2 separate regions of the Homo sapiens genome follow, and region 1 is linked to region 2. Evidence: fine-mapped expression QTL. A gene starts in region 2. The other region holds a variant in brackets. All regions are shown on one strand. Distances are between the middles of the regions.

Region 1 (2,917 bases), 90 kb before region 2:
AAATTAAGTTCTGATGACAGGAAAAGATAGACCAAAATATTTCCCAACCTGGCAGATATATACTTAATCTGTTCAGCTCACAACAGAGAGAAATGGTCATATTGAGATGGATAAAAATTCAGATTTGAGACTTCCATGTATATAGGCATACCTGTGTCTGCAAATGAGCACATTTTGGAACGTAGGAGTTAGCATACAGTATGAAAGTTGAAAGCAAACAATGCTGGTTTCTAAAAGTGGATCCCTTTTCTTCACTGAACATCATCCTTAGACACCACAATTTCCAATATACTTAAAAACCATCAACCCCTAAAAAGTTATAATGATTTGCCTATTGATATAAAAATTTTCACAAAACTAGCGAGAAAGAAAAACCCCTTGACTCCAGGAAAACCTTTTCATAATGCATCCCCCAAGTTGGGGGATTAAATCGCTGAAATGTTTATTTAGCACTAGAGAAGTAAATTCAAAGTTGCCTGTGGGTAGACGTACAATAGAATTGGTTGACAAAGTTTGGTTTATAAAATATACTTACATATTGTTTCTTAGGCAAAAATCGGCAGCAATCTGGAATAATTCAGATTTTTTATGAGATTAATTGCCAATCTTTTTATCTGTGACGATAATGCCAAAAATGACTCAGAGCCAATAACCTTCATCTGTCATATGGAAGAAACAATCCTAGGGCAATAGTTTTTTCAAAAGCGGAACTGACAAAGATAAGCGTTTAAAAGGGTCTTGATCAATTAGTTACAGGAACATGAAAGAAAGTGTTCCACAGAGAACTGTGTCTCCTAAAATCTCTTTCTTCTATCATCTACCTTACCCAAAATTTCTCAATCCAACCACATCTACCTGCTGGTCCATCAGATACCAGATGCCTTTACATCCAAAATTCTCTTAATGCTTTTTTTCCCCCACCAAAGTTCTCATTACAAATAATATAGATTGGAAGTTTGGAGGATGGAGGGGAATAAAAAGGAAAAGTAAAACAAAGTCACTTTCCCCAATCCATATATAAAACTACAAAAGAGTTTTCCTGTATTGAAATTAACATGCTTTTGTAATGAGCAACGCCTTAGTGGTAGGGTATTCAGTGAATTTAAACTAAGTTAACAGAATCTGAGAGGCAAAGAACTAAAAACAGGATATACAGTTACCCCTTAAAATGTCATTTCTGTTACCAAAAAGCCTGCTTCAGTACCAAGTTCCAACATATCTGAGTTATGCTACTTCACTTTTAGCCAATTCCAACTTTGATACTTTAAGAAAAAATCATTTTATTGTTAAAAAA[GA/G]AAAAAAAACTTAGATCTTATAGTTCATGAACTTCTAGGACAAGATAAATTCCTCTGTTTTAGACACAAAATAGATCACGTCAGTTAAATAGACTTTGTTTTAATTCACTCACTGAAACATCTCCAACTACTAGCAAAAATTCCGAATGTCTGAATGCACACTACTCTTCCTAATGTGGGGAGACAACTGTGTGCTTTGTATCTTTCCCACTCAAATTGGCTTATAAAATGAAATTATTTTAACTATCCAATGGAAGGTACATAATTTAAAACATCCTATAGAAATGACATGTTACTAGTAATTTACAATTTTAAAAAACAGCCACAAAAAAGTCAAAGCTAAAAACAAGATTTTTACTATGAATCAGTGCTTCTATTATCCTTCTGAAAGAAGTTATATTTTAATGTGATGTAAAGGCAACATTGAAATTTCTTCTTTAAATTAACCACCTAATTTATCCCTAAAATTACAAAGAATCAGTCTTTTACAGGTCAAGTGCAGTAAACTAAAATGTTCTCTCAGCACAAAGCAGCACTAGAAAAAGTAACAGTTATAGATGGGAGTTGACTAGTTTTGCAGTGGCTGCGCCATCAATAACAAACAGACATCAGACGGTATCCATCCCAGAGCACAGACACTACTACAGACTAGATGCGAAGAATGCGTCACACTCTTGGCTGATAAATGTCCTTTGTCTTTGACTCTTTCTAGTTTGAATGAAGTGGATTTTTTAAAAGTTTAAATCAGGTCACATAAGTTGGCTGCTTAAATAACATCATGATGAGGTATGAAAAGCTCTGAATATCCCTTACATTCAGCAGGATTTACCAGAGATGTATAATAGCTTGTCAGGGGCAACTTCCAAATAGTTTTTACACTTTGGGGTTATAATGAATTCTAGAAGAGGACAAGTCTAAAAAGGTTTAAAAGGGTATGCTCTGAAACAGAGGTGAGCAACCTTTTCCTTCAGAATTCACTTTGAACAGCACATCAACAAAAAAATCTTCTCTGGTAGTGTATCCCAACATTGAGTCAAGATGGCCAACTAGCACCGAGAAGTCGTATTGAACTCATTTGCAGTTGTCTTGGCAATTAAGCGTATTTTTTCATTCCAGTCCAAGCACAAATGTGGATCACTGAACACAGTACTGGAAGCGCCATTTGCAGGTACAGATTGCAGTCATCATTAAATGAGCCAGAAGGCAGATACTGTTTTTATTTTGTGTGGGGGGAGGGGGAAGCGGCACAGTACTAGCAGGAGATGAAATAAAATGATTAGGAAACAATGAGGTTATAAGATCACTGTTCTTATTTGGGTTAAGCAGGTCATGTTGAGAAGATGGTTATTTCTTTCAGATAAGGATGCTACATTAAAGGAATCGTGTGCAGCATGAAAAGATTAGAATCGAGCTGCACCTAAGAAAAAAATCCCAAAGTTACTTTCAAAAGTATGTGTTATCTGCCAGTCACAGAGGGGAAAAGCACCTAGGGTGAACTCCAATTTTTTAATGAGGACCTTGATCAGGACCACAAAGCCTGAAACATTTATTTTAATGCAGAAACACAGCCCCTAGTTACACTGATTGCATTTGGGAAAATTGGAGGGTTTTTTCGTCCTTAG
Region 2 (2,917 bases):
TCTGTAAAATAGAAAAATTAACAGATACTTCAGATTCAAATGTTTTTAATATATGTAAAGCATTTAACACAATACCTGAAAAAAGAACTCAATAAATGTTAATTCCTTTACTTTCTCTTACGTCTCATCTATCCATAAAACAGTGTCTTCCAAGAATATTTCAGTAAAAATACAACAGAACTCATTCTTACTTTCCTTTGAAAAATTAAATTTTCATCTCTTTGATCTTTAAAAAGGAGGGAAAAATAACTTGTGTACTGCTTTCAAAATATTACAAATGCAAAAGCTAGTTAAGACAAAAACAATGTCGAGAATGAGCCTTGCTGGTGGCATCCGCCTGTAGTTCCAGCTAGTAGGGAGGATGCCTTGAGGCCAGGAGTTCCAGATCAGCCCGGGAAACAAAGCAAGACTCCATCTCTTAAGAAAAAAAAAAACAAAACAGGAGGGGGGAAATCACTTCATCTACTAATAGAGATTTTTAAGCAACCGTTTATTTAAGAAAAAAGGGTGAAATTCAAGTTAATATTACTTGACAGTACGTTTCAGAAAAAAAAATACTCTGCAGAGCTGGGTGTGGTTGCCCAAGACTAGTCCCAGCTACTTGGGAAGCTGAGGCAAGAGGACAGTTTGAGCTCAGGAGTTGGAGTACAGCCTGGGCAATATAGCGAGACCCCATCTCTTTAAAATACAAACAAAAACTCGGCAATCGTTTGTTCTGAGTTGAAACCTTAAAAATCAAATATTTTGAACGCTTTCATTTAAAAGTGGAACACGACCCAATCCTAAAACATTACTTCATGACGACTTCCTTGACTCCAGTCATCCTTGTTTCCTCCTCCCGTTTTGAGCTTAATCCGATACCTCGCTGCTTCCCTCGCATCGCACACGCGGCGTGCAGACCAAGTTCTGTCATTGCTATAATTACCACACCCCCGATCAGCCGCTCCAGGCCCATGTTGTTATGACATCGGTAAACTGCAGCCGGCCGTCTCCACCCCCCGCTTCCCCCACCTCCCTCCGGGCCGCCGGCTCCGACCCGGTCTGTAACTTGTGAATTCCCAAGACGGTCCCTTTTTGCCAGGGTTAGAATTTTTACACGCCACCCCTGCTCCTTCCTGCCTCTGTCACAGCGCTCTGCGCGGCCCACCCCCGCCTCCCGCCCGCCGCCCGGCCGCGGCGCAGGCTCCGCGCTCGCCTCCTCTCCGCCCGCTGCCTCGGCGCCCCGCAGTCCCCGGCGCCGCTTACAGCCCCGCCGCCGCGCCACGCCGCCCCGCCCCGCCTAGCCTCGACCGGCGTTCCCGATGGCGATCACACCAGGGCTCCCCACCCCCACCCTCTCCTCCGCCGGCCTTGTGGCCGTTAGGACAGCCGGGCCCGTGACGCACGGACGCGGCGCGAGCGTCCGGCCCAGGAACCCCGGCTCTAGGCCCTGCCGGCACCCGCCCTCGCCCCAGGGCCTCTCCTGAGTCCCTCCGGGACTGCCCGGATCTGCCGGCGGGAGGGGGAGGGGCCGGGGCCGCAAGGCCCCAGCACTCACCAGGCTCAAGGCAACCGATCCCGGTGCCACCGCTGAAGTTAGCCCCTCGCTCGCCCGCCCGCCGTGCCACTCCCGCGCACAACCTCGAAGAGCTGGCCCGCGCCTCGGCGGTGCTCACCAGGCCTCGCTCTCCGCCGCCTCGCACCGAGCAGCGAGACTCAGCTCAGCCGGCGTTCGCAGTGCGCCTGCGTGCGGGGGCCGGCCCGAGCGCCTACGCGCGCCCCTCCGGCGCTTGTCGCAGAGGCTGCCGGGAGACGTAGTCTTGTAACGCTCTCTCGCCGGACATTCCTAATGGTTAGCGCCCAGCCTGTGAAGAGTCGGGGGTCGGGGAGGGGGTCTCGCTAAGAAGGAGGTTTGCAGACCATGGCAAAGGTTGGAGAAAGTTATATGTACAAACCTGTCTTTGCTAAGCTCTTCCAGGGCGGATCGATGCTCACCTCTGTATAGCTTCTAAGTACCTAATACGCGTTGATGGAATGAATGATGGAATGATTGAAGGCTGAGGGAGTATTACAAAATTAGTAGGTCAGCGCCTCGTGTCTAAAGGGCTCACATGCAGCATGAATGCAGGAAGCTTCTGGACATTCCTTTTTTAGTTATCTCCCATCCCCTTTGCTTGATAACGTATGCGTAGTATCAAAAATAATTAAGGGCCGGGCGCGGTGGCTCACACCTGTAATCCCAGCACCTTGGGAGGCCGAGGTGGGTGGATCACTTGAGGCTAGGAGTTTTGAGACTAGCCTGGGCAACATGGCGAAACCCCGTCTCTACTAAAAACACAAAAATTAGCAGGGGGTGGTGACGGGCGCCTGAAGTCCCAGCTACTCGGGAGGCTGAGGTGGGAGAATCACCTGAGCCCGGGGTTGACGGTGAGACTGCAGTGAGCCGAGATCGCGCCACTACACTCCAGCCTGGGCAACCGGAGTGAGACCCTGCCTCAAAAATAATAATAACAATAATAATAATAATAATAATGAAACTACATGAAACACATACTCGTTTTACTCTCAACTGCTCTCAAACGAAAACTTGGAGCAAATGATTGCTAATGTTAAATTTCATGGAATTCTTTGGGGGAGCAAATGGAGTAGTGGCTTCAAAAGAAGAAAAACTGAAGCCAGCCTAGCAGGGATCACGGAATAGTAGACAGATTTAAAACACATGCCAAGAAGCAAGGTGAAAGAGATGAGGTAGATTAATACATTTATAAATGTCCCAGGGAAGAGGAGAGGAGAGAGGACCACTCTACCTGAATCCTAGGTTATGCAATGTTCATTTGTCCTGGACTTCTCTCTGCTGCATCAGCATTCTCCCGCTGATGTTGTGTTTACTAAGATCAGAGTTGAGTTTGAGCAAGGGGGCTGGGGAAAGGGAAGGTGT

The links. PIP is the estimated chance that this variant, and not a neighbour inherited with it, causes the effect. A credible set is the group of variants that fine-mapping cannot tell apart.
Region 1: its variant is the best candidate, but not a certain one, in a credible set for the expression of KPNA1 in whole blood (INTERVAL, PIP 0.59).

Annotation. Positions count from the first base shown.
Region 1 is chr3:122,423,196-122,426,112 of GRCh38, forward strand. KPNA1 (karyopherin subunit alpha 1) reads right to left here. Exons shown (of 14, transcript NM_002264.4): 14 at 1-2,917. All of the region lies in intron 1 of WDR5B-DT (WDR5B divergent transcript), which reads left to right. Among named protein-coding and RNA genes, the nearest start is that of WDR5B-DT, 8.4 kb to the left of the region's middle. The variant GA/G (reference allele first, on the strand shown) is at 1,295.
Region 2 is chr3:122,513,220-122,516,136 of GRCh38, forward strand. It overlaps KPNA1 (karyopherin subunit alpha 1), which reads right to left and starts at 1,720. Exons shown (of 14, transcript NM_002264.4): 1 at 1,538-1,720. LOC107984000 (a long non-coding RNA gene) reads left to right here and starts at 1,810. Exons shown (of 2, transcript XR_924403.3): 1 at 1,810-1,909. RefSeq lists a silencer at 998-1,687.